2 separate regions of the Homo sapiens genome follow, and region 2 is linked to region 1. The links come from fine-mapping of genetic effects on gene expression. A gene starts in region 1. The other region holds a variant in brackets. All regions are shown on one strand. Distances are from middle to middle.

Region 1 (4,382 bases):
TCCGGAGTAGCTGGGATTCAGGAGCGCACCACTGCACCCAGCTAATTTTTGTATTTTTAGTAGAGACAGGGTTTCACCATGTTGACCAGGATGGTCTCCAATGCCTGACTTCAGGTGATCCACCCGCTTCAGCCTCCCAAAGTGCTGGGATTACAGGTGTGAGCCACAGAGCCCGGTCAACATTTCCTCTTCTTGTAAGGACGCGCTGGATGAGGGCCCACCCTAACAGCCTCATTGAATCTCCTGTGTGTTTTGTAACTGATGTTGCTGTCTCCCCCAACGGAGCTCCTTCGGGGCCTAAGCACTTCTGAGTCGTCTCTGGGCCCCCACCTCTGGCTGCAGGATTTTAAGCCAAGGCGTGCAGCCGGGGGACAGCAACGTGAATACGCCGGGAGGGGCACGGGGAGCCTAAGCACAGGGAGGCCCAGGGAAGGGGTCCCCAGTAGGGACGCTGGTGCTCTCGGGCCCCTGCCCATGCCACCCTTGCCTGCCAACCCTCTTCGCATGCAGCGGCACCCTCCTGCCACTGGCATGAGCTTTTCTTTCCAAGTAAGTTTCAGATCCACATTTCCCAGGCCTCAGAGCGGCAGCTGAGGGAGGGAGGAGGCTGGGCAGGCCTCGCTGCTGCACACCCCACTGTGTGCCACGATCAGGTACTGCCTGCTAGGACTCTGACTGGGCCCACGGTGGCTGCAGGACTGTCCTGGGGCCTTCACTGCATGGCCTGAACAGGGGCTGGGCTCCCAGGGAGGAATGATTCATGGCTGGTTCCCGCCCTATAGACAAGACAGTCACAAGGAGCTGGCAGGGTAAGACCTGTATATGCTGCCACCTGGTGCCAGGCACAGCAGCAAGGCCACGTGGACCTAGCCCACCTCACCTCTGCCTGCAGCAGCAGGGCTGGGTAGGGGAGCCGAGGGGAGGGGCAGGCCTCAGACCTCAGTGTCACATCCAGGCAGTGTCAGTGTGAGCCTAGGCTCTGCCACACTGGAGCCCTGTGCTCTTGGGCAAGTGACTTAACCTCTGTGAGCACAGTCTTCACTGATAAATCAGGGAGGGATGTGCCCTCCGAACCAGGTTGTGGCTGCTTCCTATGGGGCTGTGTTAAGCACTGCGGACGCAGAGACTGGAGCTTGCATGAAGGCGCACGGCGTGCTCTGAAGGCAGGGCTGGAGTCCCTGCAGGCTGGTGATTCCTTCAGCTGTGGGGTCAAGGAGGCCTTCCTGGGGAGGCGGTGAATTGGGGCCACAGGGGCCGTGTCTCTCCAAGTCTGGGGCCCAGGCTCCGGTTCCTAGGGCCAGCTCGGGGGCGGCTGCTCAGCTGTCTGCTCTGTGGCTTCAGGCCCCAGAGCAGTTCAAAGGGCCAGCGCCCCCGCCCCCTAAAAAGACCTCCGCCTCCTGAAAGCCTTACCTGCCTGTCGGGGCCCAGCTGCAGGCCCCCTCCCAGGCCGACAGGACGCCAGGATCGTAGAGGGCACCCGCCGCCCAAGGTCACGTCGCCCGTGGCGCCCCCATCCAGGCCCGCCCCCCGCCGCGCCCGATCGCCAGGACTGCGTTTCCACGCCGCCCGGACCCCGCCTGAACCGAGGCCCGCGCGGAAGGCGCCACTGAGTCCCGGCCGGCCGCGGGAGCGCCAGATTCAGCACCCGGCACCCGCCGGAGAAGAGAGGAGAGAAAGGCAGCCGCCTCCCGGCCCCAGCGCCCTGGCCTCGGCCAGCCCCATCCCGGCCCCTTCCTCCTCCCTCTTCTCCCCTTCTCGGGTCCCCCCGTCTCTCCCTGGCTCCCGGCCCCTCCTCTACCCACGCCTCCTCCTCGCCCCCGCCCCGCCCGTCCCCTCCGCGGTCCCCGCCGCCCGCGTACGGGGTGACGCAGCGCCGCCTCCCGCCGCCCGCCGCCCGCCGCCCGGGCCACTGCAGGGGCCGCTAACGGTCCGGCGCCCCTCGGCGTCCGCGCGCCCCCAGCCTGGCGGACGAGCCCGGCGGCGGAGATGGGGGCGACGGGGGCGGCGGAGCCGCTGCAATCCGTGCTGTGGGTGAAGCAGCAGCGCTGCGCCGTGAGCCTGGAGCCCGCGCGGGCTCTGCTGCGCTGGTGGCGGAGCCCGGGGCCCGGAGCCGGCGCCCCCGGCGCGGGTGAGTGTCGCCGCCGCCCGGGTTCGGCCGGACCTGGCCAGGGAGCGGGGGCGGCTTGGGGGACCCGGCTGGGGGGACCGGGTGCAGGGAGCGAGCGGCTGTGGTAAGGCCGGGGGCCCTGGGAGCGCAGGCGCCAGGGAGGGGTCGGGGCAGGCGGGAGGGAGGCCGGGGCCAGGGGCCGGGCTGTGCGCCGCCGTCTGCTCCGGGAACCCGAGGACAAAGCGCCGCGCAGTGGAGGGGAGGCCGGCGCCCCATCCCCGCGGGGAGGTGGGACCCGGGGCGCGGGGTCGTGGCCCCCGGTGCGGTCTGTCCGCAGGGCACCTCTGGACAAGACGGACTGTGGATGGATCCCGAGGGGGGGTGCCAGGCGCTCCCCACCGCGCGCATTGCAGTTTACTCCAAGAACAGATGCTTTTCTTTAGCAGGGATCCGAAACCTGAGAGGCGCCCTTGCAGGGTGAGGACTTCCTGTTAAGAAGTTAAAGAAGGGGCCCCTGACTTTCTGTGGGGTGTGCTCCCTGCTCGGGATGGGGGAATTGGTTTCCGTGCCACGGGTTGGCTACTTGCCCCGCAGAGGCCCTCCGGATGAGGAGAAGAGTGACTTTGGTAAACATGGAGGACGCATAGCCCACCCTGGAGAGAGCCCTGCAGGAGGACAGAGGGTTTGTTTTTGTTTTTTGTTGTTTTTTGTTTGTTTTTTGTTTTTTTTTTTTTTTGAGTCGGAGTGTTGCTCTGTTGCCCAGGCTGGAGTTCAATGCCACGATCTTGGCTCACTGCACCTCCGCCTCCTGGGTTCAAGCAATTCTCCCTGCCTCAGCCTCGGAGTAGCTGGGATTACAGGAGCCCGCTACTACGCCCGGCTAATTTTTGTATTTTAGTAGAGACAGGGTTTCACCATGTTGGCCAGGCTGGTCTTGAATTCCTGACCTCAGGTGATCTGCCCACCTCAGCCTCTCAAAGTGCTGGGATTACAGGTGTGAGCAACCGCACCCAGCCTTTTTTCTTTTTAATTATTGGGGTGGGTGTGGCAGAGGCCAGGATTCATGCTGGATGTGCGGAGCTGGAATGGGGTGGGTGTGGCGGAGGCCAAGATTCTCTGGTGGATATTCGGAGCCTGGGATGACACCTTTAGACCCTGTGGGCAGTCGAGGTCAGGAGTTCTTCTGGGCGCTTTCTGGTGCTGAGTGGTGAGGATCTGTGGGTTGGGTTCTGGTGGGGACAGAGTTGAACGTTAGGTGGGGCCAAGGTCGAGGGGTGGTCTCAGACCCATGACCAACACTTGGTTTCCAGCCCTGGGGTCACCTATCTGTGGCTGGGCATCTGAGACTTGACTTTCCTAAGGTATTTCTCATGTCCCCTTTGGTAGAAATGTCACACCCCAAATATCACCCACCAGGGCCCACACACAAGGAGAACAGGTGCCTGACCTGGGCCCGAAGGGTTTGTACTTTGTTGTAAATCCCTAGGCTTCAGGAAGATGACTGCCTCCCCCAAGCACTTCCTAAGTGCGGGCCACTGGGCTTCAAACCGGATGGGTTCCTGAGAGGCAGCTGCTCCCGTCCTAGGGATGCAGGGGCCGATCTGCAGGGGCTGGAAGTGACTGGCCCAATTAGCTGCTGTGCTTGTAGCCACTGGGCTGTAAGGCTTCCCTCAGGCTCCAGCCGCCGCAGAGACGCCAGACCCTTACAGGGCATCTGTGTGGGAGGTCAGTCATCACTGCTTTCTGCCTTGGCGTCCCCAGCCAGCTCCCATTATGGTTTCTGGTCCCCCAGGTCAGGGCTTGGTGTGGTGTGGCGTCTGCTTTTGTCCAGCCTGCTGGGGTTTGCCTCTTGGCATGCTAATTGCTTCACTCTTGCTAAGCCAAGGTGCTTTTGTGCGGGTTCATCCTGAGCTGCCTGACTGGCCTGCCAGGAGCTTGGTCCCTCTTGGAGAGGGAGGGCCCTGGTTTGTGGGGCCATGGATGGTGGGGCCCTGGCTGGTGGCCCTGGCTGGTGGGCTTCCTCCAGGAAGCAGCCTGCCCTCTCCACCCAGGAGTGCTCTCCCATGCAATGGGAAAACATCAACAAGTTGGGAAACGCTAAGTTGTGAATGAGTTCAGGAATACAGCCACACTGTCTCTAGTTTTTTTCTCATAGCTTTACAGTCCCCAAAAGGAATCAGGCCCAGGTTCGATTCTTCTATGCTTGAGGTCAGTAGGGCCATAGTAGGGCAGAAGAATGTGAACCAGCTCACAGGACATTTAATTTGGTCAGCAA
Region 2 (4,382 bases), 51 kb after region 1:
ACGCCCCGTGCTGGAGGCCACGCAGCCTAGGGGACGCGGGGAGGCAGGTGTGGCCACACACGGATGTTCGGTCTCCCTGGGGCAGGTGCCACACCCCTCCTCTGGCTGGCTGGGCGGAGGGTGGGAAGTGGTGTCCTCCCCACACCCACTGGGGCCCATTGTATTTGGAAGTCTGTGATGTATCACATAACCAGATGGAATCTGAGTGCAAAGAAAATTGTTTCTCCATGGAAAGACCCAGTAACAAGCAAGTTGATTTTTTCAAAAGGCCACTGAATTAGGTGTGGGCGTGCAAATTACATGAGACTGGGGAACGGTAGAGCTCAGGTGGATTCTGAACTCTTGGCAGATGTTGGTAAGAGCTCGGTCTACTTCAAGGAAGCCCAGCTTGACGCTCGTTAACAGAGTGTGGCTGGCGTGAGAGCGATAGCAGGCTGGTCAGCAGGCCCACGCCTGTCTGCAACGAAAGCTGGGTGTCAGATGGCCCTTGGGTGCCTTAAGTCACAGCATGTAAGAGGATGCACGCATCTCTGTGGACAGCGCCCCACTTTCAGTGACTCCTCAGCCAGCCAGCTGCGGCTCTAAGAAAGCTTCTCCCATTCGCATCCGAACAAGCCTAAGGGAGGAGGTCTCTGCCCCTCCCCAGGCCCAGGGCCACGCGCCCCCTTTCTTTCTGTCAGGGCGGTGGTGATGGCAAGAGGCTGTCGAAAGGTCCCAGGAACACCGGCCACCCCAGGCAGCCGTGCACAGGGACTTTCCTCTGTCAACTCATTTGACAAGTTTGGGAAGTGGGATTATTTTTAATATTGGTGTATGTATTTATTAAAGAAATAGAATAATTTGAAAATCAGGACAGGCATTCTTGAAATACGTCCTGTCTATCTTGATAAATATGGCTATGCCTTGAGCAGCACGTCGCTTTTAAAAATATAATTTGTGTGTGTGTGAGCTCAGCTCCATGGAAACAGCCTGTCACTTATTTATTTCTATTTTTTTATTTTTTGAGACAGAGTTTTGCTCTTGTTGCCCAGGCTGGAGTGCAATGGCGAGGTCTCGGCTCACTGCAACCTCTGCCTCCCAGGTTCAAGCAATTCTCCTGCCTCAGCCTCCCAAGTAGCAGGCGCCCGCCACCACACCTGGCTAATTTTTATATTTTTAGTAGAGACGGGGTTTCACCATGTTGGCCAGGCTGGTCTCAAACTCCTGACCTCAGGTGATCCGCCCGCCTGGACCTCCCAAAGTGCTGGGATTATAGGCGTGAGTCACTGTGCCCTGCCCCAGCCTGTCACTTAATGAAGGGGTTTAGGTTACTGAAATACGTCTGAGGAGGCTGTGATATCATTAATAAATGAGATAAATAGAGCTGTCCTGTGTGGGAAGATGGCACTCACCCACGGACTCACTGTGGCCACCGAGCCCCTGGGCAGGGGACCTCCAGGGACCCCCAACTTGTTCCTCAAGCCCGAAGGCTCTTGCTGGCGTTGGGCCACCTGTCCTTCTCATCTGAGCATTCCTCACACATCTCTTACACGCATTGAGTCGCCCCGCACAGACTCCTCGCAGGCCTTGCGCGCTCAGTACTGCTGAGAAAATGGAGGTGGGTGGGTGGGTGGAGTGGGCAGACACTGGAGCGGACGCTCTGCTTTCCATGGGGGTGCTGGAGTTCGAGTCAGGTCTACCGATGCCCAGATTTCCCACCTGGCCATTGGCAACCCCTTTACAAACTCGGCATCCCGGGAGTCTAAGTGAATTATTCCACGCCCAGGGCCCGTCATTGTGGGCTGGACTCCTACAGCCCACGGTGACGTCTGACCGTTCCATGGGGGATGGACCCCCACTTCAGCCCCTGTCCAAGAGCGGTGCTCAGGGCCAGCTTTGAGTGAGGGACACGTGGGGTTTACTGCAGCCCCTGTCCAGGAGTGGGGCTCAGGCCAGCTTTGAGTGAGGGACACGTGGGGTTTACACGTGGCCGCTTGTCTCTGCAGAGTCCACTGCCAGCTGGTTCGACTCTTTGCACGAGGAATTGAAGAGAATCCGAAGCCAGACTCACACAGCTGAGAAGCCGGCGTCCTGCTCACAAACTGGGAAAGTGTGAAAACTATTTAAGATAATTATTACAGACCAATTATGTTGATATATACATTTAAATGTAGAAATTTATTTTTGATAGTTAAATCTTGATTTTAGAAGAAAACCCTTTTGTCAACAATTTTGTGTACATATTTGGCATTTTCAGTTCTGTACGCATCTGCGGGTTGCAGCCCACGCCGCTTACTCTCAGCGGATGCAGCTGCTCACTTGGGGGCACTGGCCTCTTAGGTTTTAACGATGTCAACAGTGTAGTTTAGAAAATGGCCCGTTAGTGGCTCTATTGCAATAATGTTAGGGACATTATATGATTTCCACGCAGGTCACACCATCTGGGCCTGAGGTAGCAGTGGGTCACTTTGATCCACTTTGCAGGACTTATTCTGTAACGGTTTGTGGCCAAGTTTTGGGAAGTGGTTGATTCTCTTTGCCTTCATTTCACCTTCCTCTTCGTTTACGGTTAGGACATCGCTGCTTGATCCTTACAATACTGTGCAACTGCAATGCAACGTGGCCCTGCTTCAGGTGATCCGCGGGAGGGGCCTCCACGCCAGCGCCGGGAAGGCTGCTGGGGCCTCCACACCTGCCTCATCACGGCGGCGAGGCTACGACAATCCGGCTGGGAGCATGACCTTGGCGTCTGTTCTGGGAGCAC[G/A]GATGATAAGCTCTGGAAGCTGGCAGTGTGTAAAGCACTGGCAAGTTTGTTACTGTTAAAATGTCAAATACCAATGCTTTATATCGACGCGAAGTGCTTAACACAGCCGGGCTTGGGGGCAGTCAGGAGGAAGCTGGCCATCCGTGGAGGAGGGGCCGGTCCTGGACTCCCGCAGGACTCCTCTGAGGCAGGGCCTGAAGTCTGTACACGTGGTCCAGATTTGTCCTTGTCTTTTCTTCACACTGAGTTCTCTATATTTATTGAACATCTTGTCCTTTTAAGCCAGAGTAGTGTAAACTGCGTCTCGGATGTCTGTCTTTTGCCTCGAAGCCACGATGGATCGCTGGTTTCCTCTGCAGCGCGAGGGCTCCGGCGACCAGAGGATTCTTCCCGGAAGGCATTCCTGCCGCGCTCCCCGGGGCACCCCTCAATTGTGTACTACGTCCTTGTTTAGTGTGTATCCGTGCCCACGTAGATGATGTCTGTAACGTAGTTTTGTTTGAAATATGAGAATATGCGGCTTAAACTTTGATCTGTAAGGAGCGGGGCCGTGGCCGTTTGGAGCACGCTGTAGACACCGTTCCTCATGCTGCCGGGTGGGTTTTGCAGAAGCTCCCTTAGTGATTTCATGTTTAACAGGCAGCATCCATTTTCAGAATTTCCTGGCATTGATTTATATTTTGAAGCATACAGGAAACTTCTCGTTTCCTCGTTTAGCCCCACCCAGATCAGGTGAAAGGGCAGCTTTAATGGTGGTTTTTATGGACCACATTATCAGAGAGCACTGTGCAAGCCAAATGGTTCAATAATGAATGAAAATTCTGGGTGTAAAGAGTAAATATGCCCTGGCTCTTTCTACCAATGTTTGCTCCTGGTTGGAAAGAAACCAAAGATTTAAGACGGGCTGCTCTTCCAGACTGGCTGTGCCTGCCTGTGCCCAGCAACCTGTGCAGCCGGCAGTGTGCCTGGTGTCACGCCAGGAGGCTGTGGCTGCTGTGGGCCCTCTGGAATTGTGCTCCTCACAAAGTTTCCCCAAAAGGTTCTTCTAAGCCTTTATTGTCCCTGGTAAATGTTTCCCGGCTGGGCGCGGTGGCTCACGCCTGTAATCCCAGCACTTTGGGAGGCCGAGGCGGGTGGATCACCTAAGGTCAGGAGTTTGAGATCAGCCTGCCCAACATGGTGAAACCTCGTCTCTACTAAAAATACACAACTTAGCCAGTCTTGTTGGCGCACGCCTGTAATCTCAGCTACTAGGGATGCTGAGGCAGGAGAATCGCTTGAACCCAAGAAAGAGGTGGAGGTTGCGGTGAGCCAAGATTGCGCCACTGCACTCCAGCCTGGGCAAACAGAGGGAGACTCCATCGCCCCCCCCAACAAAAAAAAAAGTTTCCCATACACTGGCCTGCCCCAAAACCCACTAACAATTTTAGCAAAACAGTCCAGGCCAAAGAGGAAGCATTTCATGTTCAATAAGAAACCCAGCCATTCCGCATGGCTGGTTCCTGAGTGGCTCTGGTGATACTCTCCAGCCACCTGCTGACATTCAGAATCTCAGACCTCGGGACTGCTGTTGCGGTACCGTGTGTCTGACACCTGCCAGCAGCCCTTTGCTATCTGCGCGCAGGATGGGGGTGACTGC

What was found. PIP is the estimated chance that this variant, and not a neighbour inherited with it, causes the effect.
Region 2: its variant is fine-mapped to the expression of CERK in whole blood (TOPMed, PIP above 0.99).

The regions. Positions count from the first base shown.
Region 1 is chr22:46,735,753-46,740,134 of GRCh38, reverse strand. It overlaps CERK (ceramide kinase), which reads left to right and starts at 1,883. Exons shown (of 13, transcript NM_022766.6): 1 at 1,883-2,128. The coding sequence starts at 1,987. LOC105373077 (a long non-coding RNA gene) reads left to right here and starts at 3,743. Exons shown (of 2, transcript XR_001755593.2): 1 at 3,743-3,832. RefSeq lists enhancers at 1,041-1,370, 744-1,402, 2,641-2,810, 3,498-4,071 and a silencer at 1,531-2,490.
Region 2 is chr22:46,684,810-46,689,191 of GRCh38, reverse strand. It overlaps CERK (ceramide kinase), which reads left to right. Exons shown (of 13, transcript NM_022766.6): 13 at 1,986-4,382. The coding sequence ends at 2,058. Among named protein-coding and RNA genes, the nearest start is that of CERK, 51 kb to the left of the region's middle. RefSeq lists a silencer at 2,586-2,880. The variant G/A (reference allele first, on the strand shown) is at 2,744.